Homo sapiens: one gene and its partners. Each later gene encodes a partner of the first gene's protein in a complex. Each region holds a gene or a part of one and is shown in the gene's direction. Other genes may lie near its edges. The genes, in order: RPA1, ATRIP, RAD9A and PRIMPOL.

Evidence for each region.
Region 2: the proteins of RPA1 (region 1) and ATRIP are in contact, whole or in part, in a crystal structure (PDB 7XV4), measured with the Homo sapiens proteins. Residues at the interface, in NP_002936.1 of Homo sapiens: Ile33, Thr34, Arg41, Arg43, Ser54, Met57, Thr86, Leu87, Lys88, Asp89, Arg91, Val93; in NP_569055.1 of Homo sapiens: Gly53 (codon at 4,212), Asp54 (codon at 4,215), Phe55 (codon at 4,218), Thr56 (codon at 4,221), Asp58 (codon at 4,227), Asp59 (codon at 4,230), Leu60 (codon at 4,233), Glu62 (codon at 4,239), Leu63 (codon at 4,242), Asp64 (codon at 4,245).
Region 3: the proteins of RPA1 (region 1) and RAD9A are in contact, whole or in part, in a crystal structure (PDB 8JZY), measured with the Homo sapiens proteins. Residues at the interface, in NP_002936.1 of Homo sapiens: Asn29, Arg31, Ile33, Arg41, Arg43, Leu44, Leu45, Ser54, Ser55, Phe56, Met57, Asn85, Leu87, Lys88, Asp89, Arg91, Val93; in NP_004575.1 of Homo sapiens: Asp297, Phe298, Ala299, Asn300, Asp301, Asp302, Ile303, Asp304, Tyr306, Met307, Ile308, Met310.
Region 4: the proteins of RPA1 (region 1) and PRIMPOL are in contact, whole or in part, in a crystal structure (PDB 5N85), measured with the Homo sapiens proteins. Residues at the interface, in NP_002936.1 of Homo sapiens: Arg31, Pro32, Ile33, Thr34, Thr35, Arg41, Arg43, Leu53, Ser54, Ser55, Met57, Asn85, Leu87, Lys88, Arg91, Arg92, Val93, Tyr118, Asn119, Glu120; in NP_001332824.1 of Homo sapiens: Asp514, Asn515, Gly516, Ile517, Asp518, Asp519, Tyr521, Phe522, Leu523, Glu524, Ala525.

The regions. Positions count from the first base shown.
Region 1 is NC_000017.11:1,825,974-1,833,011, forward strand, and holds the start of RPA1 (replication protein A 70 kDa DNA-binding subunit), read left to right. Parts: upstream 1-4,031; 5' UTR 4,032-4,120; coding exon 4,121-4,153; exon of another isoform or gene 4,154-4,161; intron 4,162-7,038. Other genes in the region: protein-lysine N-methyltransferase SMYD4, read right to left, coding at 1,888-2,021. UniProt on the Homo sapiens protein: As part of the heterotrimeric replication protein A complex (RPA/RP-A), binds and stabilizes single-stranded DNA intermediates that form during DNA replication or upon DNA stress.
Region 2 is NC_000003.12:48,442,791-48,449,755, forward strand, and holds the start of ATRIP (ATR-interacting protein), read left to right. Parts: upstream 1-3,946; 5' UTR 3,947-4,055; coding exon 4,056-4,302; intron 4,303-4,335; exon of another isoform or gene 4,336-4,732; intron 4,733-6,965. Other genes in the region: TMA7 (translation machinery-associated protein 7), read left to right, coding at 1,058-1,092. UniProt on the Homo sapiens protein: Required for checkpoint signaling after DNA damage. Required for ATR expression, possibly by stabilizing the protein.
Region 3 is NC_000011.10:67,387,239-67,394,998, forward strand, and holds the start of RAD9A (cell cycle checkpoint control protein RAD9A), read left to right. Parts: upstream 1-4,747; 5' UTR 4,748-4,806; coding exon 4,807-4,840; intron 4,841-4,922; coding exon 4,923-4,993; intron 4,994-5,003; exon of another isoform or gene 5,004-5,277; coding exon of another isoform or gene 5,278-5,415; coding exon 5,416-5,544; exon of another isoform or gene 5,545-6,251; coding exon of another isoform or gene 6,252-6,257; coding exon 6,258-6,372; intron 6,373-6,452; coding exon 6,453-6,552; intron 6,553-7,760. UniProt on the Homo sapiens protein: Component of the 9-1-1 cell-cycle checkpoint response complex that plays a major role in DNA repair. The 9-1-1 complex is recruited to DNA lesion upon damage by the RAD17-replication factor C (RFC) clamp loader complex.
Region 4 is NC_000004.12:184,652,722-184,659,741, forward strand, and holds part of PRIMPOL (DNA-directed primase/polymerase protein), read left to right. Parts: intron 1-4,360; 5' UTR 4,361-4,419; coding exon 4,420-4,599; intron 4,600-6,618; coding exon 6,619-6,716; intron 6,717-7,020. UniProt on the Homo sapiens protein: DNA primase and DNA polymerase required to tolerate replication-stalling lesions by bypassing them.

The DNA.
Region 1 (7,038 bases):
TATATACACAATTTATATACAATGTAAATGTAAAACATTTACATTGTAAATAGGGTAAAAAAGATAAACAGATTGGGAATAATTTATACAACAAATAGTAACTTACATAGCAAAGAACTATACAGCTAGATTTATGAAGATCTCCTACAAATGAACAAGAGAATAAAGACAACCTGCTAGAAAATGGGCAAGGGACACAAATAGGCAATACACACGAGAAATAAAAATGCACTGGGGGGCCGGGCGCAGTGGCTCATGCCTGCAATCCCAGCACTTTGGGAGGCCAAGGCGGGCGGATCACCTGAGGCCAGGAGTTGGAGACCAGCCTGCCCAACATGGCGAAACTCCATCTCTATTAAAAATACAAAATTAGCCGGGTATGGTGGAATGCGCCTGCAATCCCAGCTACTCGGGAGGCTGAGGCAGGAGAATCACTTGAACTTGGGAGGCGGAGGTTGCAGTGAGCCAAGACTGTGCCACTGCACTCCAGCCTGGGCAACAAGAGCAAAACTCTGTCCAAAAAAAAAAAAAAAAAAAAAAAAAAAGAAAAGAAAAGAAAAGAAATGAAGACTAACAAAAAAAGTATAACCCTAACTGTACCGAGTATCTGAACTGGCAAGGCTCAAAACTGAACTCATTATTTCATTCAATTAATATACGAGCGCCTACTATGTGCCTGGCACAAAGATAAAGACATCAACCTTGAACGTGAAAGGTGTGTGTTTCTGGATCTGCAAATATATAAGGTTCTGCTTTATACGTCATTTTAAGCACTAATAACAGCCAGTAACTAAACTAAGAACTTTATATACATTACCAAGTTGTCATTCAATTAATGTTTACTAACCACTTATTTTTTGACACTGCACTATTTTTGTCTATAGAAAGACAAACAGGCCGGGCACAGTGGCTCATGCCTGTAATCCCAGCACTTTGGGAGGCTGAGGCGGGCGGATCATTTGAGGGCAGGAGTTCAAGACCAGCCTGGCCAACATGGTGAAACCCTGTCTCTACTAAAAATACAAAAATGTGAGCTGGGCATGATGGTGTACGCCTGTAATCCTAGCTATTTGGGACGCTGAGGCATGAGAATCGCTTGAACCCAGGAGGTGGAGATTGCAGTGAGCTGAGATTGTGCCACTGCACTCCAGACTGGGTGACAGAGTGAGACCCTGTGTCAAAAAAAATAAAATAAAATAAAAATAAATAAATAAATAAATTAGCCGAGCATGGTGGTGTGCGACTGTAATCCCAAATACTCGGGAAGCTGAGATACGAGAATTGCCTGAACCCGGGAGGCGGAGGCAGTGGGCTGAGATTGCGCCACTGCACTCTAGCCTGGGTGACAGAGCGAGACAGTCTCAAGAAAAAGAAAAAAAGAAAAAAAAAAAAAGAAAAACAAATACAAACACGGTCCCTTCCCTCATGAAGTTCACAATCTAGCGGCAAAGGCAGGCATTAGTCAAAAGAGCACACACATATATAAAGGAAAATCACACAGCATTGTAAATGTACAAAGAGTGAAGATGGCCCAGCTGAGGCTCAGGGAGAGCTTTCCTGAGGAAAGATCTGGCTAATCCTGCAGGATGACAGAAGTGAATTAGTTCACAGGACACGCTGGGATAGAAACGAACCAGGAAAAGTACTTCAGGCATTTTCCATCAAAAAGAGATGTTACCAGGCCAGACATGGTGGCTCACGCCTGTACTCCCAGCACCTTGGGAGGCCAAGGTGGGAGGATTGCTTGAGCCCAGAAATTTGAGACCAGCCTGGGAAACAAGCAAGACTCAATCTTTATTTAAGAAAAAGACACATTACTTCAGAGCAAATGACAAAATAGAACATTTTTTGGCTCACAATTCCCTTGTTAAAGCTTGATTTACTTACTGAAGAAGTGAAGAGGAGTGAAGAAAGATATCCCTCAAGGTCTCTGCTGTAGAAATTGTGACCTGAACAGACGTCGGGAGTGAAGCCCACTTTTGAAGCAGATATGATTTCCATTCATCCACAGGCAGATCCATGCTGCTTTTGATCTATAAAATGAGTAAGAAAATAGGAATCTTACAAATGCACAATTTTAGAAAATCAAGAGTTCAGCCAGGTACGGTGGCTCACACCTGTAATCCCAGCACTTTGGGAAGCCGAGGTAGGTGGATCACGAGGTCAGGAGATGGAGACCATCCTGGCTAACACAGTGAAACCCCGTCTCTACTAAAACTACAAAAAAATTAGCCAGGTGTGGTGGCGCACACTTGTAGTCCCAGCTACTCGGGAGGCTGAGGCAAGAGAACTGCGTGAACTGGGGAGGCGGAGGTTGCAGTGAGCTGAGATCACGCCATTGCACTCCAGCCTGGGTGACAGAGCAAGACTCTGTCTCGGAAAAAAAAAAAAAAGGAAAATCAAGATTTCATTCAAGGAAGCCTGAAACAATAAAATCAATTCTTGTGGTCTTTTCCTCTAGTTTATATGCTAAGGAAGGATCTATATTTTCTCACAGCAATTCACTCAACATCCTTCCATTCAGAAATATTTACTGAAAGACTACTTTGTCACAGGCACCATGCAGGTGATGGTTATACAAAGACGAAGCAGACTAGATAGCTACCATCTGTGCTCTTAGATCCTCTTTTTTTTTTTTTTGTGAGGCAGAGTCTTGCTCTGTCACCCAGGCTGGAGTGCAGTGGCACCATCTCGGCTCACTGCACCCTCCGCCTCCCAGGTTCAAGCAATTCTCCTGCCTCAGCCTCCGAGTAGCTGGGATTACAGATGCGCGCAACTACGCCCGGCTAATTTTTGTATTTTTAGTAGAGACGGGGTTTCACCATGTTGGCCAGGCTGGTCTCGAACTCCTGACCTCAGATGATCCGCCAGCCTTGGCCTCCCAAAGCGCTGGGATTACAGGCGTGAGCCACCGCGCCCGGCCTGATCCCTCTCTAGTTTCTCTGAGACACATCCCAGATTTTTCTTTCTCACCCACCCCAGCAACTATTCATTTAACAAGGTATTTCCCTCTCTTACATAGTTCAGCGTTCTGATTAAGTCCTCACCATCTCGTCTGGCATTCTTCCTAGAGTGTTATAATTAATGTCCATGCCATTGGCACCACTCCCCACTTTCAATCCAGCCTCCAACACTGAGACAGAAGTCAGTGCTCTGCCCTTAAATTCATCAACGCTACTCCAAGCATACCAGGAAGCCCAGGACAAAACCATCCTTACTTGACCCTTGTCTGACTTTCTAATTCTCAGGTGTCACTTACTCCTCTGCATGCACCCTTGCATACTGAACAACTCATTGCTATCCCCGGCTTGCCAGGCTATTTCAACTCTCCAATGTTTTGGCATAGGCTACTCATGCTTTCCGGACCAACCCTACCCTGGCTTATGGAGTCCACCTGGAAAATTCCCACACGTTCTTCGACTCGGCTCAAATGGCACCTCCTCCGGGACGGCGTCCCTGATTTCCCAGCTGTGATTCCAACACCCTTGGGGCCTGTACCACGTCTACCTGGAGGTGGGGTTACTGACGGCATAAAGTGCCCCCACACACTGTCCTCTTCTCTAAGGACGGGGGCCGGGTCTGATTCCCTTTCGGAGACCCCCCACCCCCACCCCCCACCGCCACGGTGCCAAGCTCAGGGCTTGGAGGCGGGAAGTCAGCCCCGCGTTGCTGGACGAATCGGGTCACTACTGCGACTCTATTTAGCAGCGGAGGTCTCAAGGAACAGCTTTAACCTCCTCTGGGATACCAACCCGTGCACTCGCCAGAGACCGAGGCGAGAACGCCTCGAGAACCGCTCAGACGCGCCCGGAACTGCGCCCTGGTCTCCCTCCCAGCGCCCGCGCAGCTCCTGGCGCGCCCCTTGGCGCCCCGCTCCGCCCCGCACCGCGTCCGGCGTCCCGCGCCAGGCCTCGCTTGGGACCATGGGTGGGTCACGTGGGCCGCGCCTCGGCCAATGCGGCGGCTGCGTAGCGCCCGGGCCCGCCCCTGAGCCGCGCGCACGTCGGGGGCGGGAGCGGTGCGCGCAACTTCTCGGGCCAATAACTGCGCAGCGCGCGGGACCCGGGTGGGGAAGCTGGAGCTGTTGCGGGGTCCGCGGGGAAGTCTTGGCGGTGGAGCCATGGTCGGCCAACTGAGCGAGGGGGCCATTGCGGTGAGGAGGTGCCGGGGGCTGGGCCGGCGGTCCGGGGTGGCTGCGGCCCCGAGCCTCGCGGAGTAGAGAGGGGGAGGGGAGCCCGGGGCGACGGGGGATGAACGCGAGGGGAGGAGATGGCGGGGGGCGGTGGGGACCCGCCGGGCGTCCCTCTAGTGTCATCGCCCCCTCCTCAAAGCATTCTTTCGATCGTCTTTAAAACATGCTCACATTTTTCCTACGTAAGAACAAACTAAATAAACGCTTGCCTTTCTCTGCATCTTCCACCTGCGGACACTTTCTGTCTCTTCTCCTTTCCCCACCCACAGCCAAACTTCTTGTCTGGTTTCAGCCACTTCCTTTCCTCGCCTTTCATCAACTCTTTAACCCACTCCAGTCATCCCTTTGATCGCTGTAGAAAACCCTGGCTGAAGGTACCAGTGGCCTCCAAGTTGCTAAATCCAGCCCTTTTCCGTTTTCAGCTTACCTGAGTTCTCAGCAGCGTTTGCGTTTAAGCCCTGCTTGCTTCAGGTCACACCCTCTTCCTTGGTTTTTAGTGGCTCAGCTTGGCAGGTCTATCCCCGTCTTATTTGTAAGTCCCTCTTTGTAAATTTTTGTTGAATCAAGGCTCCCTCTAGGCCCTCTTGACTCCCGAGGCAATTTCTTTTTTTTTCTCCAGCCTGGGCGACACTCACTGTCGCCCAGGCTGGAGTGCAGAGGCGCGATCTCGGCTCACTGCAACCTCCGTCTCCCGGGTGCAAGTGAGTCTCCTGTCTCAGCCTCCCGAGTAGCTGGGACTACATGTGTGCGCCACCACACTCGGCTACTTTTTGTGTTTTTATTAGAGACTGGGTTTCATCATGTTGGCCAGGCTGATCTCGAACACCAGACCTCAAGTTATCCGCCCGCCTCGGCCTCCCAAAATGCTGGAATTACAGGCATGAACCACCGCGCCTGGCCCCAAGGCAATTCCATTGCCATCTATTAATATATGTCAGTTGCTCACAAATTTCTTTGTACAGAGCCACCTTTACTCTAAAAGACAAACTTCCGTCATCTGTCTGCTTATTCCATGCTTCAGAGGGTTTTAAGTTCAGTATACGTATCCCAAAGCAAATTCTTTATCTTTCTAAGTCTGGGCCTCTTGATCCCTATCTCCACGGATGGCACCATTATCTATTCAGTTCAGTGCTAACCAGAAATTGAGAAATCATTCCTCCTATATTGTCCATTACCTGGGCATCCAGTCCCTCACGAAGTGAAGTGTATTTTGCCTCTGCGTAGATCTATCAAGCCCACTGGCTTCTCTCCATCCATACTGGCACCGTCTTTTTTTTTGCCTGAGCTGCTGACTTCCACTCAGCATACGTTCCTGCCACCATTCCCATCCACAGCATACTCTCAGCCTACCTCTCCAGTCACCCCCACATTTTTTTTTAAATTTAGATTTCTGGTATATTCCATACTCCTACCTTCTTCCATGGGGCCTTTGAACTTTTTTTTTTTTTTTTGAGCTGGAATCTTGCTCTGTTGCCCAGGCTGGAGGGCAGTGGCGCGATCTCGGCTCACTGCAAGCTCTGCCTCCTGGGTTCACGCCATTCTCCTGTCTCAGCCTCCCGAATAGCTGGGACTACAGGTACCCGCCACCACGCCCGGCTAATTTTTTGTATTTTTTAGTAGAGACGGGGTTTCACCGTGTTAGCCAGGATGGTCTCGATCTCCTGACCTTGTGATTCGCCCGCCTCGGCCTCCCAAAGTGTTGGGGTTACAGGCGTGAGCCACTGTGCCCGGCCTTTTTTTTTTTTTTTTTTTTTTTTTTGAGGCAGAGTCTCACTCTTTCTCCCCATACCCCCCCACTACCGCCCCAGGCTGGAGTGCGGTGGCGCAATCTCGGCTCACTGCAACCTCTGCCTTCTGGGTTCAGGCAGTTCTCGTGCCTCTGCCTCCAGAGTAGCTGGGATTACAGGCATGTACCACCACACCTGCGTAATTTTTTGTATTTTTAGTAGACACGGGGGTTTCACCATGTTGCCCAGGCTGGTCTTGAACTCCCAACCTTAGGTGATCCACCCTCCTCGGCCTCCCAAAGTGCTGGGATTACAGAAGTGAGCCACCGCACCCGGCCCTGAACATTTTTTTCCCTCTGCCCACTGCCTGGGTGGTTCTTCACTCTTCCCCACACTGGCAAACACTATCTTCGTATCTCAGCTCATTTGTGACTTCCCTTACTAGGCTAAATCCCTTTGAGACCCCAATTCCTGTTCATTCACTTATTGAATTATTTATTTTTTTTCTTTTTGAGATGGAGTCTTGCTCTGTTGCCCAGGCTGGAGTGCAGTGGCACGATCTTGACTCACTGCAACCTCCGCCTCCTGGGTTCAAGCAATTCTCCTCCCTCAGCCTCCCAGGTAGCTGAGAATACAGGAGACTGCCATGATGCCCGGCTAATTTTTGTATTTTTAGTAGAGATGGGGTTTCACCATGTTGGCCAGGCTGGTCTCGAACTCCTGACCTCAAGCAATCCACCTGCTTCGGCCTCCCAGAGTGCTGGGATTACAGGCGTGAGCCACCGCGCACGACCCCATTCACTTATTAGATGCATGACTTGAGGCAAGATACTAAACTGTTTCTTTTCTGTAAAATGAGAGCAATGATATCTATTGCATAAGGTAAGTAGGAGGATGGAGTGAGTTATTAAATTTAAAGTGCTTAGCACACTGATACATAGTAAATGCTCAGTGTTTATGTTACCTATTAATAATTGCAGTTTTATGTTTGTTGATTTATCAGTTTCTTTTTAAAATTTTAAAATTATTGTGTTTGTTTGTTTGTTTGTTTTGAGACAGAGTCTTGCTCTGTTGCCCATGCTGGAGTGCAGTGGCACATTCTCGGCTCACTGCAACCTC
Region 2 (6,965 bases), on another chromosome or scaffold:
TATATGGTCATTTGTAAATTGACAGAGTATACCAGGTGCCAGGATCATAATATGGAAGGTAGTGTAACATGGCAGTTAAGAATGTGGACTTTGAAGTCAGATGACTCAGGTTGGGATCCTGGCTTGTCACATACTTGAACAACACCTAACAATAAGACTTCTTTTTTGGCTGGGCATGGTGGCTCAAGACTGTAATCCCAGCACTTTGGGAGGCTGAGGTGGGTGGACCACTTGAGGTCTGGAGTTCGAGACCTGCCTGGCCAACATGGTCAAACCCCATCTCTACTAAAAATACAAAAATTAGCCGGGTATGGTGGCATGCGCCTTTAGTCCCAGCTACTCGGAAGGCTCATGCATGAAGAATCACTTGAACCTGGGAGGCGGAGGCTGCAGTGAGCCAAAATTGCACCACCGCAGTCCAGCCTAGGTGACAAAGCAAGACTCCATCTCCAAAAAAAAAAAAAAAAAAAAAAAATGCTGGGGTCGGTGGCTCACACCTGTAATCCCATCATTTTGGGAATCTGAGGCAGGCAGATCACCTGAGGTCAGGAGTTCGAGACCAGCCTGACCAATATGGTGAGCCCCGTCTCCACTAAAAATACAAAAATTAGCCAGGGCTTGTGGTCCCAGCTGCTCGGAAGGCTGAGACAGGAGAATTGCTTCAACCTGGGAGGCAGAGGTTGCAGTGAGCTGAGATCGTGCCACTGCACTGCAGCCTGGGCGACAGAGCAAGATTCCATCTCAGAAAAAAAAAAAAAAAGGACTTCTTTTTCTGTAAAATGGGTTGATATGGCATGAGGATTAAATAAGCCAATCTGTGAAGTATACAGAAGTGTAGATCTAGACCAGTGCACAGCCAGCCACTGCTTGTACTCCATCTCATCCTCATTTTACCTTTACCTAGAACAGACAGTATCAGTGAAGCTGCTATCCATGCTTGTGTTAAAGTGAATGCCCAATACAAAAGCCAGGCTTTACTAAGGTCCACAGCAGGCCCGTGGGGCTTCTACCGTAAGAACTATATTTTTCCCTAATTGTGACTATTTTTCTTTTGCAGCCACAGGTGGAATTAAGAAATCTGGCAAAAAGTAAGCTGTTCCTTGTGCCTGAGGAGATGGTGACCCTTTATTTCATCTGTATTTAAACCTCTCTATTCCCTGCCATAACATCTTTTGCCACGTATAGCTGGAATTAAGTGTTGTCTTGGAGCTGTTGTACATTTAAGAATAAACTTTTGTAAAAAAAGAAAAATCTTACAGTGGCTCATCATCTCTTTAGTTGTTTTCACTAAGTCGTTCCTACCATAACTGTGAATTTAAAGTAAAACCAGCTCAGAATCTTGCCAGAGTCTGTTCTTTGGTCCTTGTTCTACCCTAAACTTTGTATCACCTGAAATTAAACCAACTCATTTGAAAGGATGGCGTTCTTGTGTGGTTGTATACCTGACAGAATACCTTACATGAGTTTAGTGGAAGAATTTGCACTTTTTTTTGGTGGGGGAGGGGGTGGAGTCTCACTCTCACCCAGGCTGGAGTGCAGTGGCATGATCTCTGCTCAATGCAACCTCCACCTCCCGGGTTCAAACTATTCTCCTGCTTTGGCCTCCCAAGTAGCTGTGGTTACAGGCACCCGCCACCATGCCTAGCTAATTTTTTGTATTTTTAGTAGAGAGGGGTTTCACCATGTTGGCCAGGCTGGTCTCAAACTCCTGACCTCAAGTGATCTGCCTGCTTCAGCCTCCCAAAGTGCTGGGATTACAGGCATGAGCCACTGTGCCTGACCAGAATTTGTGCTTTTAAAAGAAAACCCATCTTTATGTTGTCACATCCAAATTGCCGTATATTTTGATGAGACTTGTTCATCTGTTCATGTAAGGCGTCTGCTATATGCAGGCACTGGGGTATGTAACGGAACAGTTCCTGTTGTCAAGGAACTTCTCTACTGTGGAAGAGGCAGGGCAGGGCAAATTACATGATCCTTCAAGTTGCTAGCAGTGAAGTCCCCATGCGCACCAAACAGGTCCAGGGCAGCAGCTGCGGGAAGCCCCAGCCCACTTGCTGGTGGATGGAGGGGGTGCCAGTGCCAGGCAAGGGGTTGGGGGTGAGGCAAAATGGGGGCTCACTCTACCTCCTGCTGCCCAGGACTGGAGTCCCAGGCATACCTACCGCTTGCCCCTCAATAAATGCAAAGACAGAGACCATCCATAATGTGTGCTGAATATGTTTTAAAATGCTTAGCTGGGTGTGGTGGTGCACTTCTGTAGTCCCAGCCATTTGGGAGGCTGAGGTGGGAGGATCACTTGAGCCCAGGAGTTCGAGGCTGCAGTGAGCCAAGATCACACCACTGCACTCCAGCCTGGGAGACAGAACAAGACCCTGTATTTAAAAAAAAAAAATTAATTCAGAAGCACAAGTATTTGGATTTCCCTCCCAGGCCCTTAATACAATTATGTTAATAATGCTCAGCTTTCTCTGAGAATATTGTCGAAGAGCGCTCTGGAACCATTATGAGACTGCTAAATCAAAACTAGGTTTTAGAATATTGAAAACTTTCATGATTAATGTACTAGATATTAACGCGGGAGAGGGGGCAGGGGGAAGCCTGTGTTGGTCCTCTCCAGAAAGTTGCACAGCCAGTAGCACCCTTCAGTAGGCTTCAGGCATTCCCTGTGGGGCCTTGCTAGCTGGCACCCAGCCGTATGCTGCTAAAACAAACCTGAGCACCAGTGATTCACACTGTTCCTGAAAGCAAGTTACTTGGTGGAACCTATCCCTCTTTAACAAATGAACAGTCCTGTCTCTTTCCAGGACCAGAGTCCTGCAGCAATTAAGCATGCAACACTTGGGAAGCTATCTGACGGAGACTACCAGTTGCTCCAAAAAATTTTAAACTCCTTAGACATTATAGGCCCTGATAGCACTCTCTTTTTCATTTACTCTTTTCATTTAATGCTTTCACAAATATTCCTAGGACACTCACAGGTGAAGTTTGGCACTGAGCAGGTAAGGCTGAAAGAGTCTTGCTCCTGTTACTCTCCATTGCCAAATTCTCTATTGCGGCTAACTTCTGCACACCACAGCTGCCCAATAAAATCTGTCAGGCACGCAAGCCCACCTCAAATTGCTGCTCCTTTGTGAAGCTTTACCTCTGTTCGCCACCGGTAACTCTTACCTGGCCTTTGTGTGGCCTCCCTTTCAATGTAGAATTCTCGTGTTAGTCTTATGTGCCAGCCTCCTACCCCTCTATCCTGCTAACTTGACTCAACTTGTAGGACAGCGCAGGTGCCATTTACAGGGGGACTTCCTTGACCTCCTGAGCCCTATTCTATACAACCAGAGCTTAGGAAAAAAAAACAGTCCAGCACTCAGAGGAATGGATGTTAACAGCCTGAGCAGCTCCCACCCCCTCCCACACAAGAACAGCTCCAAACATCATTCCTCCTTGGACTTTCCTCCTCCCTGGGCCTACCTCAAATGTACACATGTGAAACATTCACTAAACCCGAAGATGTCTGCACACGACAGCTCTATTCATACTCCTCACCCAACAAATTCCACTCTCCTCAAGAAAGCCTAGGGGTTTGTGGGAGGTGGGTCTGGCGGCAGAAGGAAAGCGAGGTCACGGAGACCACATCCCTGAATGATGCCTGGCTCGACTCAAACGCAACACGCGTGAATGCTAGGGCAGGCTGCTCCTGCGCGGCCCTCCTCCACGGAATGCCAGGGAGGGAGCGCAAAGCCACCAGCGCGGCGGAGCTGGTGCGCCTCCGGCCCGCCTCTCCGGTAACGGGTCGCGCCGCACTGAGTCCTTGCAGCAAACCTGCCGAATCCCGCCCGTGGACCTCTAAACACCGGGCGGGGCCGGGTGTGGCGGCGCGCTCGGACGTTCGTCATTCCTCCGCGCCCTCCGCCTGCCAGCTGATTGGCCCCTGGGCCAGGGGCGGGGCACTCGCGGCGGAGGCAAGCGGCGGCGCGCGGACGGTTGGTCCAGTTCTCCGGCCTGGCGGCAGGCAAGTCTAGCTCGGCGCTGTCGGATACTTGGGGTGAGCGGAAAGCATGGCGGGGACCTCCGCGCCAGGCAGCAAGAGGCGGAGCGAGCCCCCGGCGCCTCGCCCCGGCCCGCCGCCGGGCACCGGGCACCCCCCGAGCAAGCGGGCCCGGGGCTTCTCCGCAGCCGCTGCCCCGGACCCTGACGACCCGTTCGGCGCGCATGGGGACTTCACTGCCGACGACCTGGAGGAGCTTGACACCCTCGCGTCACAGGCCCTGAGCCAATGTCCGGCCGCGGCTCGGGACGTGTCCAGTGAGTGCTCCTCGCGGCCTTTTGCTCGGAGGGAGTTGTCAACCGCGCCAGATCCCCTTGATGGCTGTGGCTTCGGAACCTCGCGGCCAGCACTGCCTTTTCGCCTTTTTAAAATATGGGAACACCCTGATTTAAGCAGCGGTTGTCTTCCAGAAGGTCCTTTGATTTTAGGGGGAAATGCATTAGCCAGGTCAAACAGCCGATTTGAAACACAGAAGGCTAAGTTGACATTTTACGTTATTTTCTAAAGTTTAGGCCACTTGGTTCTTGGTTCTAAGCAGAGATCCTTGGAACACACCTACCACCACCATCAGAACCATCACTACCCATGCATGGGGACCCATTCTTGTGACAAGTTTGAGCGGCTTTAGATCTTATGAAGCCCACTGTCTCCCTTGGGCAGTGTGAGCATGGGAGGAGCCAGACACAGGCAAGAGATGAAATAAATTTATTCTTTTATACAACCAGTAAACTGTGCTAGGTGCCCAAACGTGAGGAACTGCAGCTGACCTTACAATGAACAAAATACAAAAACTGTCCTTCATGGAGCTTACATTCTAGTTGAGGAGTGAGTGAAGTCTTGAGGACTCCCAGAAAGAGAAATGTTTTGAGTGCACCTTGCATCTGTACTTGGGTGTCTCAAGGCACCTTAAACTCAACACGATCATTTCCTGGAAACCCAGTCCTCCTCCAGCACTTCTAGCATGGTGCCGGCAAAGCAGACATTCAGAGAATGATGACCAGATGTTCCACAAGGAAGTAACTAGCACGACTCTCCATCCAGTGGCACAAAGCGACTCTTCCCCTTTCCTTGACTCTACATCTAATTTATTTGGAAAGCATGTCAAGCTTACCTTCTTAATCCTTCTCTGGAGTCTATCCTATTCACATTGCTTCTACCAGCTGCCTGATCTGTGTTACCATGAGTCCTCTCTTGAACAATGGTCTGCTAAATTGGTTTCCCATTTCCAGTCTTGACTCCCTACAAGTGAGGCTTCACATCACATTCTGAGTGATCTTTTCAAAACTCAAATCTGGCTGTGTCTTACACAGATATACGTGAACACCCTTTTTTTTTTTTTTTTTTTTGACGGAGTCTCACTCTGTCACCCAGGCTGAAGTGCAGTGATGCCATCTTGGCTCACCACAGCCTCTACCTCCCAGGTTCAAGAGATTCTCTTGCCTCAACCTCCCGAGTAGCCTCAGCCTCCCAAGTAGCTGGGATTACTTGTGCCCGCCACCATGCCTGGCTAATTTTTGTATTTTTAGTAGAGACGGGGTTTCGCCATGTTGGCCAGGCTGGTCTCAAACTGCTGACCTCAGGTGATCCACCCGCCTTGGTCTCCCAAAGTGCTGAGATTACAGGTATGAGCCATCCGCACCCAGCCATGAACACCCCTAATGAAAGCCCTTTAATAATTTCTTATTTCTTCTAGTGTGAAGACCAGAATCCTTAACATGGCCTGAAAGGCCCAGCCTGGTTTGGCCCTTTCTCACTCTCTGGGTCCTGGCTGCACTAACATTCTTTGAATTCTCTCTGCTTCTTTACAATACAGGAACTTTATACATTGTTCTTTCTTTGTACATTGAGTATACTTTTCATTCATTCATTTCCACTCATCTGGTTAATTCCTACTTGTCCTTCAGCTCTCAGCTCCTTCAAGTCTTCCCTAGGGAAATGTTCCAATCATCCCACTTAAGTCAGATTGCTGTCATATTATAGGCTTTCCTATATTTGTTCTCTTCTGCAGTTCTTAATCACAGTTGTAATTTTACATTTATCTGTGTGATTATTTGTTGAATGTCTTTTAAGCTCTGTGAGTGTAAGGAAGTATCAATTTTGCTCACTATTGTACCTGTAGAGCCTAACATGCCTGGCATATTGCATGTGGTCAGTAACTATTACTGAATAATAAGTAGATCATTGAGTTCTGGCCAATGAGATCTCCTCAGGCTTTAGATGAGACTCTTGGAATTGGATGAAGGATAGGGAAAGAATAATAGGATCTGTTGTTTTAGAAGGATCATTTATGAGTTTCAGCCGGGTGTGGTGGCTCACGCCTGTAATCCCAGCACTTTGGGAGGCCAAGGTGGGCTGATCACTTGAGGCGAGGAGTTTGAGACCAGGCTGGCCAATATGGTGAAACCCCGTCTCTACTAAAAATATAAAAATTAGCCGGGCGTGGTAGCACACGCCTGTAATTCCAGCTACCTAGGAGGGTGAGGCACAAGAATCGCTTGAACCTGGGAGGTGGAGGTTGCAGTGAGCCGAGATCACGCCACTGCTCTCCAGCCTGGGCAACAGAGCGAGACTCTGTCTCAAAAAAAAAAAAAAAAAAAAAGAAGGATCATTTATGAGTTTGAACCATGTTCTTAGGTTGAAAAACATCTATATTGCTTACTAGATCTTTCCCTGCTTTGCTCTCAAGAGTAATTCTTCCCAGCACTTTGGGAGGCAAAGGCAGGAGGATTGCTTAAGCCCAGGAGTTCAAGACCAACCTGGGCAACATAAGGAGACCCAATCTCTACAAAGAATTTTAAAATTAGCCAGGCATCCAGGCACAGTGGCTGACGCCTGTAATCCCAACACTTTGGGAGGCTGAGGCGGGTGGATCGCGAGGACAGGAAATCAAGACCAGCCTGGCTAACATGGTGAAACGCCA
Region 3 (7,760 bases), on another chromosome or scaffold:
GCAGGGACGTATCCTACCACAGCTCCCGACTTCCCGCTCTAGGCTTCTTGCTGTTCTAAGCCCTTCAGAAAGTTCCAACGAGTTCTGACTTTTGGCAAGGGGGTGGGAGGGTGACTGAAAACTACTCAATACGAGTCGAAAGAGTGTATGTCAGCTGGGGGCAGTGGCTCACACCTGCCCCTGGCTGATATAAAAGGCAGACATGGTTCCTGGCCTTGTGAGGTAGACACACTAGTGGAGAAGACAGATATGAAACATATGAAAAAAAGCTTATGTGTCCCTTCTCTTCTGCCTAGGGTCCTCAAGGTCATAGAACCCCATAACCCCATTAGGTGTCAGGGGCAGAAACAGGACTGTGTGAAGATTCACAGCCTCCACCTCCCTTGCCTTCACGGAGCTTCGGCATCTACCCTTATTCCAGGCGGCTGCTCAGGTAATGAGTATGAGGCAGAGGTGGGAAGGCTGTCCTGGTTTACACGTGGTGGGGGAGGGGTCCAGAGCGCAGGATGAGGCTGAGAGCATGGGGACAACTGTCAAGCAGGGACAGATGGGACTGTGGGTGGAGGGCTGGAAGTTGGATGTTTCTCTCAGCACTGTGCTAAGAGTGACTTAGAGACATCTCAGCTGCATTTGGCTCACGCTGATTTATTTATTTGTTTGTTTGCTTATTTTTCCATGCCCTTTGTCAACAGGAATGGTTTACAGATATTTATTCATTCATTCATTTTTTGAGACAGAATCTCACTCTGTTGCCCAGGCTGGAGTGCAGTGGCGCGATCTTGGCTCACTGCAACCTCCACCTCCCAGGTTCTAGCGATTCTCCTGCCTCAGCCTCCTGAGTAGCTGGGATTACAGGCACGTGCCACCATGCCTGGCTAATTTTTGTATTATTAGTAGAGATGGGGTTTCACCATGTCGGCCAGGCTGGTCTTAAACTCCTGGCCTCAGGTGATCCACTTGCCCCGGCCTCCCAAAGTGCTGGGATTACAGGCGTGAGCCATAGCGCTCGGCCTACTTTTTTTTTTTTTTTTTTTTTTTGAGAAAGGGTCTGGCTCTCTTACCCAGGCTGCAGTGCAGTGGCGCTATCTCAGCTCACTGCAATCTCCACCTCCTGGGCTCAAGTGATCCACCAGCCTTGGTCTCCCACAGTGCTGGGATTAAGCATGAGCCGCCGCGCCCGGCTGGTTTACACATTTTTAAATGTAACACCTATTTATTCATTATTTACTGAGTGCCAGACCCTGTGTGAGGTACATACAGCAACAAACAAAACAGACATGGATGCTGGGTGTGGTGGCTCACGCCTGTAATCCTAGCACTTTGGGAGGCTAAGGCAGGAGGATCGCCTGAGCCCAGGAGTTCAACTCCAGCCTGGGCAACAGAAGGAGACCTTGTCTCTAACAAACATTTAAAAAATTAGCTGGCTGTAGTGGCATGCGCCAGTAGCCCTAGTTACTCGGGAGGTTGAGGTGGAAGGATCGCTTGAGCCTGGGAAGTTGAGGCTGCAGTGATCTATGATCGTGCCACTACACTCCAGCCTGGGTGACAAAGCAAGAACCCATCTTAACAAACAAAACAAAACAGAACAAACAAAACAAAGCCAAGGCCGGGTGCAGTGGCTCACGCCTGTAATCCCAGCACTTTGGAAGGCTGAGACGGGCAGATCAGTTGAGGTCAGGAGTTTGAGACCAGCCTGGCCAACATGGCAAAACCCCATCTCTAATAAAAATACAAGAATTAGCCGGGCGTGGTGGCACACACCTGTATTCCCAGGTACTTGGGAGGCTGAGGCACAAGAATTGCTTGAACCCCAGAGGCGGAGGTTACAGTGAGCCGAGATCGCGCCACTGCCCTCCAGCCTGGGCGACAGAGCAAGACTCTGTCTTCAGAAAAAACAAAAAACCAAAAACCAGACATGGTTCCTGCCCTTGTGAGGCAGACACACTAGTGAGGAAGACAGATGTTAAACAGGCAAACACACGCATGAAATAACGTGATAAGTGCTGTGGCTAAAACAGGGTCTAGCTAGAGTGTAATGGGATGCTGGTGGGGGCAGAAAAGACGGCACTGAGCCTGGAGGAAGAGAAGCACCGCCACGTTAGAAGGGGTAAGACGATGCCAAGTGGTGGGGACAGCTAAGGATGTGCTAAAATCCCCAGGTGGAAAAGGAAGTGGAGGGTTCAGGGAGCCCACAGGGTTGGCATGGCTGTGCAGGTGATCAAGGGGAGGCCACAGGTGGAGAAATGGGTGGCGGCGGCTCCTGCAGGTTCAGGGCAGAGTTTGGATTTTATGGCAACCACTGGAGTGTGCAAACACGGGAGAGGCATGACACAATGGACATTTTAGGAGGGTCACTTTGCTGCTGTATGGAGAGTGGCCTGGAGGGGGCAGGGTGGAGGCAGGAGACCACTGAGAGCTGTTACAGTCATCCAGGTGAGAGGATGGTGGCCTAGGCCTTGGAGATGGAAGAGGAGGGCAAAGTTGCCACCTGTTAAGTTGCCACCTGTTTGGGAAGCAGAGTGGTCAGGACTTAACTGAAAGACTGTGTAGGGGTGAGGGCGAGCATGAGGTCAAGGATGACTCCAGCATACTGAGCCGGATGCCCAGGGACAGGGGCACTATTTCCATGGATCCCCCGGGAAGGGGAAGGGAAGAGTAACCTCCTCCCCCAAGGCTCCACGGAAGGGGCAAGGGCTGGTGACGAGGGGAGCAGAAGGGAAGGAGAGGGAGAAACAAAGTGTATGCATGTATCCAAATGTGTACAATTATTATGTATCAATTCAACTCATTTGAAAGTGGGTCTGGAGAGCAAGGGTGGCAGAGATAAATATATCTTCTGCACTACCACAGGACCTGAGGGGCAAGGCACGGGCAGGCCCTGCAGGAATACAGGGATGCCCTGGGCCCTTCCAAGAACTACCAGAGCCTTGGTACTGTGGGGAGAGTAGGGGTCAGTGAGTTTCTCCAGGACTCCCTTACATTTTACACACGTGGACCCGGAAGCCCAGGGGAAGGGGAATACCTTCCAGCTGATGCATCCCCACCTGGCACACAGTCTGGTTTTTTTTTTTGAGATGGAGTCTCACTCTGTTGCCAGGCTAGAGTGCAGTGGCGCGATCTCGGCTCACTGCAACCTCCGCCTCCGGGTTCAAGCAATTCTCCTGCCTCAGCCTCCAGAGTAGCTGGGACTACAGGCGCGTGACAACATGCCCGGCTACTTTTTGTACTTTTAGTAGAGACGGGGTTTCACCATGTTGGCCAGAATGGTCTGGATCTCTTGACCTCGTGATCCGCCCGCCTCGGCCTCCCAAAGTGGTAGGATTACAGGCGTAAGCCACCGTACCCGGCCAGTCTGGGGTCTTTTAAAAATACAGACCCGGGGCTGGGCGCGGTGGCCCATGCCTGTAATCCCAGCACTTTGGGAGACCGAGGCGGGCGGATCACTTGAGGTCAGGAGTTCGAGACCAGCCTGGCCAACATGGTGAAACCCGTCTCTACTAAAAGTACAAAAATTAGCCAGGCGTTGTGGCAGGCGCCTGTAATCCCAGCTACTTGGGAGGCTGAAGCAGGAGAATCGCTTGAACCTGGGAGGCGTGATCGTGCCACTGTACTCCAGCCTGGGCGACAGAGCGAGGCTCTATCTCAAAACAAACAAACAAAAAAACCCCACACACACACACAAAAAACAAAAAACAGGCCGGTGCAGTAGCTCACTCCACTTTGAGAGGCCAAGGCGGAAAGACAGCTTGAACCCCACAGTTGAGACCGGCCTGGGCAACATGGCAAGACTCCGTCTCTACCCAAAAAAAAAAAAAAAAAAAAAGGGCCGGGCGTGGTGGGTGTGCCTGTGGTCCCAGATACTCAGGAGACTGAGATGGGAGGATCCCTTGAGCCCAGGAGTTCCAGGCGGCAGTGAGCCGTGTTCGCGCCACTGCACTCCAGCCTGGGTGACAGAGCAAGAATATGTCTCAAAAAACAAACAAACAAAAAAAGGCACATAACCACGATCTACCCTCGTAAAACGTTTCCAGAGCGTCCCAGCGGTGCCCCTCATCATCTGGCGGCCCCTACGCCTCTCTGAGACTCACAGACCTACTCCCCTCTCCAGGGGGCGGAGCCCACACCGCTGAGCATTTACTCTTGTTCTTCCCTCTGCCAGGGGCACCGTTCTACCCCTTTCTGCCTGGAGAAACTGCCGTTTTTCCTTAAAGGATCCTCGAAGCCGGAAGGAGCAGCCACCTCCCACTCCCGGCTGCTGCAAGCAAGCTGCTTTGACTTCTTTCTAGAGTTGGGGATTGCTGCTGGAGTCCGAGTCTCAGGCCCAGAGTGGGTGCGATGGTCTTGCTTGCACCCTGTATCCCCCGGCAGACGCCCGGGAACTCTACTAAGTGGGTGACCCCAGAGAGCTCGCCCCCACACTCCGACTCCGAGTCCAGCACTCGGTCCACTGCACAGGGACCTCGCGCCCCACAGCTGCGTCCTCTCTGACCTTCGCAATCCGGTGCGCGGCCCGCGGAACGCCCCGATCTCCAGGGGCACGGAAGGCCGAGGCGTGCCGGGGGAGCCAGGAGCAGCTGGCTGGCGGGCGCCGCGGGCCTCCCCGGTCACGTGACACCCCGGACAACGTGCGCCGTCACGTGACGGCAGAGCCTGTGAGCGTTTTTCTCACGTGACGGAGGCGCCTGCACGTGGACCAATGGGGAGGCGGGGGCGGGGCCGGCAGGGGCGGTGCGCGGGAAGGGACCCCGGACCCGGAGGTCGCGGAGAGCTGGGCAGTGTTGGCCGCTGGCGGAGCGCTGGGGCAGCATGAAGTGCCTGGTCACGGGCGGCAACGTGAAGGGTGAGTGCAGGTCGGCCTGGCAGCGGCGGTGCAGCAGCCGCGGAGCCGCCAGCCTAACCCCCTTCCGCTCTTCTCCCCGCAGTGCTCGGCAAGGCCGTCCACTCCCTGTCCCGCATCGGGGACGAGCTCTACCTGGAACCCTTGGAGGACGGGGTGAGGGGCTAGGGTGTGGGGGGCGGGTGGGACTCCAGCCGGGAGCGGGTAACCCGGACTAGAGTCTCGCCCCCACTAGGCGGGATGACCGCTGGCAGATTTGTCGGCAAAGTTTCAGTTTCTTAGTCTGGCGGCTGTCATCTTCCCAGGCCGGTGTGTGAATTGAGGAAAGCTGTCCTGCGAGCTCCCAGGGGGTGACGTGCACTTAGAGAAACTCGGGGAAGGCCTGGGTGTGCGACCCCTCCTCTGCGGCAGCAGCGCCGGGGCCGACTCTGAAGGCTTCCATGGGGAAAGGAGGGTTTTTCAGCAGGTGGTGGCGGAGCGGGAGGACGATAGGGCAAGTGTGTGAGCAGAAGCAGCCAGAGGGCTGGGTCTGTGGCTGCCCCCTGACCACGTCCCTCTCCCTGCTCTTCGTGGCCCAGCTCTCCCTCCGGACGGTGAACTCCTCCCGCTCTGCCTATGCCTGCTTTCTCTTTGCCCCGCTCTTCTTCCAGCAATACCAGGCAGCCACCCCTGGTCAGGACCTGCTGCGCTGTAAGATCCTGATGAAGGTGAGGCCCTTCCCTCAGCAGTGGCACTACTCCACCCCAGGAATCTCCACCAGCTGTGCCTCTGCCCTGGGGTACTCAGTAGATGCTAAGTGGGGAGAGAGACACGTGCAAGCCCAATCCATGCAAAACACAGGGAGGGCCATGGTAAAAGCATCACAGCGGGGACCTGAGAGGGTGGTGACGCTCAAGTTCGTCAAGAAAGGTAAGCACGTCTTTTGGCCGGGCGCGGTGGCTCACGCCTGTAATCCCAGCACTTTGGGAGGCCGAGGCAGGCGGATCACGAGGTCAGGAGTTCGAGACCAGCCTGGCCAACATGGCGAAACCCCGTCTCTACTAAAAATACAAAAATTAGCTGGGCGTGGTGGCACGCGCCTGTAATCCCAGCTACTCGGGAGGCTGAGGCAGGAGAATTGCTTGAATCCGGGAGGTGGAGGTTGCAGTGAGCTGAGATCGCACCACTGCACTCCAGCCTGGGTGACAGAGCGAGACTCCATCTCAAAAAAAAAAAAAAAAAAGGTAAGCAGGTCTTTCAAGGCATTCCAAGCATAAGGAAGAGCATGAATGAGGCCTAGAAGGATGCCAGTGCCCGAGGTGACGTGGGAGCCCTTTTCCCAGAGTTACATGCTGGGCCCATGATGGGTGTGGGCCTGCATGGGACAGGAGAGCTTGTTGCAGAGATGTGATGCTAGGCTGAGGTGTCTTATCCCATGCAGTCTTTCCTGTCTGTCTTCCGCTCACTGGCGATGCTGGAGAAGACGGTGGAAAAATGCTGCATCTCCCTGAATGGCCGGAGCAGCCGCCTGGTGGTCCAGCTGCATTGCAAGTTCGGTGAGTGGGCAGCCGGCCAGCCAAGGGGTGCCTCAGCAGGGAGGTCGGCGAGGCCCACTGAGACCCTATCGCCCATCCAGGGGTGCGGAAGACTCACAACCTGTCCTTCCAGGACTGTGAGTCCCTGCAGGCCGTCTTCGACCCAGCCTCGTGCCCCCACATGCTCCGCGCCCCAGCACGGTGAGCACACCCCTGCCCTCAGCTCAGCCCCGGGTCTCTCTCTTCCTTCTTTGGGGCCCCAAGGGGTTGATTTTAGAAGGTACCTCTTTCATTTTCCCTACAGAGTTTCTGTGAACCTCAAAGACATCCCATGGCCCGCTATGTGCTCAGGTCCTTACCTGGCTCTTTAAAGGCAGACGGTGGCATGGAGGAGGGGCAGGCGCCTCCTTGCTCCATTCTCCTTACTGTTAGGAGCCTGCATTCTCCATCCCAAAGGTCTGACTTGACTTTCTGGCTGCTCAAACCCATTCCAACTCCTCCTCTAGGGAGCACATTTCTGGCCTGCCACCAAATCTCTTGTCTGGCTTGAGTAACCTTGAAGGTCTGCCCATAACCTGTGGCTCAGAGGCTCAGACCCCTTCTCCGGCCTGGGCATCCTTCCAGAGGTGTTCCCCATTCAACGGCAGCCTCTTTTCCTGACTGCCCAGGATCGAGGAGTCCCCAAGGCCAGGGCAGGAGGCTGGAGGGAGGCTGAATAATCAGCTATGGGGTGGAGCTGTTCTGGGCAGTCCGAGCACTGGGGGCTGTCTGGGGCCAGGGAAATGGGGACTCCAGTTGAAGCAAACGTCCCTGGCGAGGACCAGCTCAGAGAGGAGTGGGCTCTCCCCCTGCTCCATGCTGGTCACTGCTTGCATTCAAGTGGCCCAAGGTCCTGCTCATTTCTCAGGGTGACTGAAGATCCCTTTGGGTCCTGACATCTGTTTCCCCAGGTTCTTTTGAGCCAGCACTGCTCAGAGCTCTTTTGGGTAGTGAGAGACGGGGGCCAATTCCTTGGTCTGCATTTAGGGTGGTGTCTTTTTTTTTTTTTTTTGAGACAGAGTTTCGCTCTTGTTGCCCAGGCAATGGCACGATCTCGGCTCACCACAACCTCCGCCTCCCGATAAAAGTGATTCTCCTGCCTCAGCCTCCCGAGTAGCTGGGATTACAGGCATGCGCCACCATGCCCGGCTAATTTTTTGTATTTTTAGTAGAGACAGGGTTTCTCCATGTTGGTCAGGCTGGTCTTGAACTCCCGACCTCAGGTGATCTGCCCGTCTCAGCCTCCCAAAGTACTGGGATTACAGGCGTCAGCCACCACACTCAGTCTCTTTTTTTAAAAATGAGCAATTGTTTCTCTCGTTTTGTTTTGAGATAGAGTCTCGCTCTGTCACCCAGGCTGGAGTGCAGTG
Region 4 (7,020 bases), on another chromosome or scaffold:
TACCAGGATATTACCAAATCATAGAACTAGAGTATTGGCAGAAAATGCAAAATACTGATGAATCTAATCTCAGGGTAGAGGGAGAATTTGGAGTTGGGGAATAGGAATTGACCAGTGATGAGAAAAAAAGAAAAAAGAAAAGGAGGGAGGAAGGAAGGAAAGAAGGGAAAGAAGGGAGGGAGGGAGGAAGGAGGGAAGGGAGAAAGGAAGGAAGGAAGAAGGGAAGGAAGGAAGGAAAGAAGGGAAAGAAGAGGGAGGGAGGAAGGAAGGAAGGAAGAAGGGAAGGAAGGAAGGAAAGAAGGGAAAGAAGAGGGAGGGAGGAAGGAAGGAAGGAAGAAGGGAAGGAAGGAAGGAAAGAAGGGAAGGAAGGAGGGAAAGAAGAAGGAAGGAAGGAAGGTAGGTAGGTGAGAAAGAAAGAAACTGAGAGAACTAGGCTAGGAAGAACCATGGCCAGGCTGGCTTCAGGTCCCCCCAGAAACTGGTAAATAGGAAGCATGTGCCCCCTCCTTCAGCTGCTCCTGGAATCCAGACCATCAAGTGTCACAGCTGGGCAAGGCTGGGCATAAACGCAGGGAAGCTGGGGCTACTTAGGTCTGCGTCATCTCTCCCCTTCCATCCCTGCTGCCTCTTCTCCCACTATAGTTACTCGAAAAGAACTAACATAGCCTTTTTTCTAGCTTGACCCCCTTTGGTTGAAAGATCAGTATCAACCATGCTTAAATAATCAAACATGGTTAAACAAACATTCTGTGCAATGTTAAGAATTAAATAATAGAAACTCTTTGAGCCCAATCTTTTATTTTGTTTTTTAGTAGAGATGGGGTTTCACCATGTTGGCCAGGCTGGTCTCGAACTCCTGACCTTGTGGTCCACCCGCCTGGGCCTCCCAAAGTGCTGGGATTACAGGTGCAAGCCACTGCACCGGGCGGAGCCCAATCTTTTAAAATACAATAAAAGTTTTCCTTCGGAACTTGGAAACTTACCAAAAATAGTTACAGTCCCTGAGTGGAAAGGAGCTTTGATACACAATTATGTAAAAGAAAGACAACACTCTTTCACCACCGGGAATGAAAAGCATTTCTAATATGGTGACATATTCCCCCAGAGGGGAGGGATGAGGAATGTGATAGTCCCAAACCAGAATGCCAGATGCCTTACTGTTCTCCATTTCCTTTGCTTTTTGTAATTCAACCCTCCTGCTGGACTACACCAAGCCCCAGTTGTCTTCTGATGCTCAACCCAGCTGTTAAAATTTTCAAGCTGTGCAGATATGAAGGGGGCATGACATATACTGAACTTCTCTTTCTTCTTCTGTTGATGCTCATGGTTTCCCCAGTTCAGTGAGTCTTAAGCTGTTTTTTCATTGTGACTCCATGATGTTCCTGTATGACATACTCCCGTGGTCCTACCAAGACTTTTACAAAATCAAACAATTTTTCATGATAAAATTTCAGTGTCACGAAGTACGAATATCCACATAGTCATTTGTAGTCAGTTATTGGTAGATACTAGCTAGATTCAGATGTGATTGCATTCTGTATTTATTTTCTTCACTAATAATCAATGGACTTTGTTAAAAGTTAATAAACTTCATGATAGAAAGTCAGTTTCTCAATTAGGTTTATCTAAGTATAGCAGATTTTTAGCTGCACGTGAAGCAGATCAAAGTAACTGAATACTCAGAATCTAGCAATAAGGAGCCATATCACTTTGTATTGACAAGTTAAAGCAGTTTTTTTTTTTTTTTGAGACAGAGTCTCGCTCCGTTGCCCAGGCTAGAGTGCAGTGGCACGATCTTGGCTCACTGCAAGCTCTGCCTCCCGGGTTCACGCCATTCTCCTGCCTCAGCCTCCTGAGTAGCTGGGACTACAGGCACCCACCACCACGCCCAGCTAATTTGTTTTGTATTTTTAGTAGAGACAGGGTTTCACTGTGTTAGCCAGGATGGTCTCGATCTCCTGACCTTGTGATCCGCCTGCCTTGGCCTCCGAAAGTGCTGGGATTACAAGCGTGAGCCACCGCGCCCGGCTGAAGCAGTTTTTAAAAAAATTGCTTCATCTCCTCCATCCAGTGAATTGATATTTTCCCTAAGCATACCTGTTATGAAATTTATGTTAGTACCTTTAGAATTATATTTCTGTTTCCTAGTATATACTTTATATGTGGATTAGGTATAACTCTGAGAGAATATCTTTCTTAGGTCTGTTACGATTGATGTCAAATTTGAAATCTGCGGATAATATGCCTTTGTTTTTTTTCTAACAAGGTCATGATGTACTATCCCTTTTTTTTTTCTTTTCTTTTGAGATGGAGTAGTCCCAGCTACTCAGGAGGCTAGAGTGCAGTGTCATAATTTCAGCTCACTGCAATCTCTGCCTCCTGGGTTCAAGCAATTTTCCTGTCTCAGCCTCCCAAGTATTTGGGATTACAGGTGCCCGCCACCACGCCTGGCTAATTTTTGTATTTTTAGTAGAGACGGGGTTTCACCATATTGGTCAGGCTGGTCTCGAACTCCTGACCTCAGGTAATCCGCCCTCCTCTGCCTCCCAAAGTGCTGGGATTACAGGCATGAACCACGGCGCCTGGTCTACCCTCTCGTAATCTTTTTTTTTTTTTTTTTGAGATGGAGTCTTGCCCTGTCACCCAGGCTGGAGTGCAGTGGTGCGATCTCGGCTCACTGGCACCTCCACTCCTGGTTCAAACTATTCTCTTGCCTCAGCCTCCCGAGTAGTTGGGATTATAGGTGCCCACCACCATGCCCAGCTAATTTTTGTATTTTTAGTAGAGACGGGGTTTCACCATCTTGGTCAGGCTGGTCTCGAACTCATGACCTCATGATCCACCCGCCTCAGCGTCCCAAAGTGCTGGGAATACAGGCAGGAGCCACCGCGCCTGGCCCCCTTTCTTAATCTTTTAGGGAGATTCTGGTTTTCCTTCCAGGAAATACTCATTTGCCAATGAGTTTGTGTTGCTGCAAAGTTTTCTGCTAAAATTCAAGACAATGTTTATCAACTCAATAAGCACAAATGTGTTACCAAAGAAATAGGACTTCACTGTTAAATGATTTAGTACATATTATTTCACTTCAAAAAAGCCCCAATATATCTGTTTTCCACATAGGTAAATTATGGCAGAGATGATATTAATGAAGAGAGGAACTCTATTAATTACCTATTTCTATGTCAAAGCCAGCCCCAAACTTACTGGCTTAAAAAAGACAAAACAACCAAATTTATTTTTTTCTTATAGCTCTGTGGGTTGGCTGGGCAGTTTGATAGGTCTCTCTGGGACTCAGGCTTACTAATGCGTTGAATTCAGATGACGGCTGGATGTCCGGAATGGCCCAGCTCACATATCAGACTGCTTATGCTGGCTGTTGGCTGCAATTCCTTGGTTCTTTTCCATGTGGGCTTTCATCCTCTATGAGGCTAGAGTTATGGCATGGCAATCTCAGGGCAGGACTCTGGGATAACCAAGTCTGCTGCAAAGGCACTCGTTAAACCTCTGCTTGCTTCACTTTTGTCAATGTGATGTTGGCCCAAAACAAGTCATATGGCCAAGCTGAGAGTCAGTACGAGAGTGAGTTTAGGTGCCATCTCTTGATGGGAAAAATGGCAAGGGGTTTGTGGCTGATTTGGCTGTTTTTAATCTAGAGTGAAAGTTTTCCCACTCTTCTAAAAACCTATTCTTTTTCTTTTGTAAATGAATTATAATCCCAAATTGGAAAATTATTGCCTGGCCCCCTTACTCTGGCGTGGTTGACATGGAAGTATTATATAGAAAGAAAAATCATCCATTACTACAGACATCCAAAACTAGCCCAACTAAAAGTTGTGTTGAGAGAGAAGAGGAGACATGGACAGAAACAGAGGAAAAGGGAACTAAGAGCTGTACATTGGTATCTAGAAATGAATTCTACACTGAGAAATAATAGCACAAGAATGGGTGGACAAGGTCATAGCACGTGATACAATAAAATGGTTATAGTAAAAACCACAGTGATACAAAAAGCACATATATTTACATGAGGCTTTGTAATTTAGAGATTGCTTATGTCTTACCACATTTATCTTCAAGCTAAGTATATAAAGTACTCAAGATGATATTGATTCCCATTTTTCAGTTGATTAAACTAAGATTCAGGGCGCTTCATTAACCTGTCCAAGGTCATAATACCATTAGATGAAGAACCAGGATCTAAGAATTTCTGATAACCAGCCTTGCTCTCATTCTGTGGTAAAACTTCATGCAAAGAATAAACAAGAAAATAAGTGTCAGGAAGTGAGTTTTGAAACTTTATCAAACAAAATATATTCTAAACAAAGAAATTAATGGCCTTTTTGTTTGTTGTTTGTTTTAGTAGTAATTGATAGAAATATTACGTGGGATAGGATTTATTCTCTCCACACTTCTGAACCAATGAATAGAAAATGGGAAGCAAAACTGAAGCAAATTGAAGAACGAGCATCTCATTATGAGAGGAAACCGTTGTCCTCAGTGTATAGACCAAGATTGTCCAAGCCAGAAGAACCACCCTCCATCTGGAGACTATTTCATCGACAAGCTCAAGCTTTTAATTTTGTTAAAAGCTGTAAAGAAGTAATTTCCTCCTCCTCCTCTTCTTCTTCCTCCTCTTCCACTTCCTCTTCTTTCTTCTTCTTCTTCATTATAATTTCAGTTCTTTAAAAAAAAAAGTCTATTATTTGTCTTCATTTCAGGCCATGTATTCTACCAAGAAAATTTAATGGCAATCTTAATGGCATGTGATTTAGGAAAAATATTCCTGTGAATCATTAACCATTTAATTTATATTAGTAATGAAAAAGAATGACACATCTAGTACCAATTAGTTTTTAAAAATTGTGATGATATTTAAATGAAGCTTTATGCTTAGAGGGAGGGGAACCATATTTATTTCAACACAGTAAGCAAGTAGGAGAAAGAAGTGTCAGCCTTTCAAAGAACATGGTGCTGAAAAATAAAAATCACTGGCCGGGCGAGGTGGCTCATGCCTGTAATCCCAGCACTTTGGGAGGCCGAGACGGGTGGATCACCTGAGGTCCGGAGTTTGAGACCAGCCTCACCAACATGGAGAAACCCTGTCTCTACTATAAATACAAAATTAGCCGGGTGTGGTGGCGTATGCCTGTAATCCCAGCTACTCCCAAGGCTGAGGCAGGAGAATGGCTTGAACCCGGAAGGCGGAGTTTGCTGTGAGCCGAGATCGCGCCATTGCACTCCAGCCTGGGCAACAAGAGCGAAACTCCATCTCAAAAATAAATAAATAAATAAATAAATAAATAAATAAATAAATATCACTAAATCAAGCAACAGATGTGTATTGCACATTCTTTTTTTTTTTTGGGGCACTGTGGGGAATGTAAAGAAATATGAAAGAAACGATAAGATGCTTATATGATAGCATAAGTGTGCTGTGAGTCTGATCACTGTTGCTGTATAAAATCTCCAAGTGCTGGAAGTTTTAGAAGGACCTCTCTTTCTCTAGTAAGGGTAGGCTTACTCAAATCTCATGAGAATGGTTTAAGAAATACCTTTCTTAGGCATTTTGGGTAAACCTAATTCAAGCAGCAGAAATTAAAATACTGACAGATTCATTTGAACTTGAATTTTAAAAAGATATAGATAGGGGTATGCTTGTTGGACTTGCTAATCACCAGTCTATAAAATTTATTTCAAAAAGGTTTTTGTTAGGGTTAAGCAACTGAGTCCTGTGATTTTTCACTCATGAAAAGAAAAATATGCTCACCAGCTACCTTTAGCTAAGAGGAAACAAAAGAACTTGTGGATGTATTCCTCTATTAGAAGAACCCTTATGGCAGGAGGCATGAGCAGTTATATTTAAACAACTACCGCAGTAATTAACCTTTAAAAAAATGGTTCCGGCTGGGTGCGGTGGCTCATGCCTGTAATCCCAGCACTTTAGGAGGCTGAGGCAGGCAGATCACTTTGAGGTCAGGAGTTCGAGACCAGCCTGCCCAGCATGGTGAAACCTCGTCTCTACTAAAAATACAAAAAATTAATCGGGCGTGGTGGTGGGCACCTGTAATCCCAGCTACTTGGGAGGCTGAGGCAGGAGAATCGCTTAAACCTGGGAGACAGAGGTTGCAGTGAGTCGAGATCACGCCACTGCACTCCGGCCTGGGCAACAGAGCAAGACTCTGTTTCAAAAAAAAAAAAAAAAGGCTCCTACATACATTTTTTTATGTACTGGGGAATTTACTAATCAATTTTAGCCCAAATCATTTATAATAATAAGTAGTTTTGAAAAATAAGTTTAATTTCATAAACTAAGAAATAAAACTATCATAGGAAGTCATACAAGTAATATTTTTAAGAGTGGTTTCTCTCCTTTTTTCTCTTTGGTCTGCATATTCTAATTGTTTTCACCTTTTGTATGAATGATTAAAAAATAGGTATAATTAGATTTTGAATGGCATAAACCTAGTGACTATTTGTCTTGTTTTTAATAATACAAATGTTCAAATTACAGTTTCTGAAAACTTGAATGAAAAATTCTTTATGAACATTCAGTAGCTACAGTTGAGTTTAGGTTTGCATTTTGTGAATTTTTCTGAATTCTTTTTTGATTTTATGCAGGACGTTCATGTATTTGCTTTGGAATGCAAAGTAGGAGATGGACAACGTATTTACCTTGTGACAACCTATGCTGAATTTTGGTTTTACTATAAATCCAGGTAGGTAGCATGCAGCAGAACCACACATTAAGCTAGAGTTCCATTTCCTTTGCCTAGGAATTTTGGTGAAATTAGTTCAGGCTGAATTGGCTTCCACAGTTCGTGACCACACTATTAGTTGCTCTTAGAATTGAATTCTGGAGTTTTCTTGTCATAGCAATGCTTGAGTATCTCACCAGGTGCTGGGAGAAAATAATCATGCACATACACGAATATATGCGTGTACTCAAAGGGAGTTTTGAAATTTCTCTTTTGCAAACAGGTATTAAATTATACTATTAATCACAAAGGAATATTTATGTTA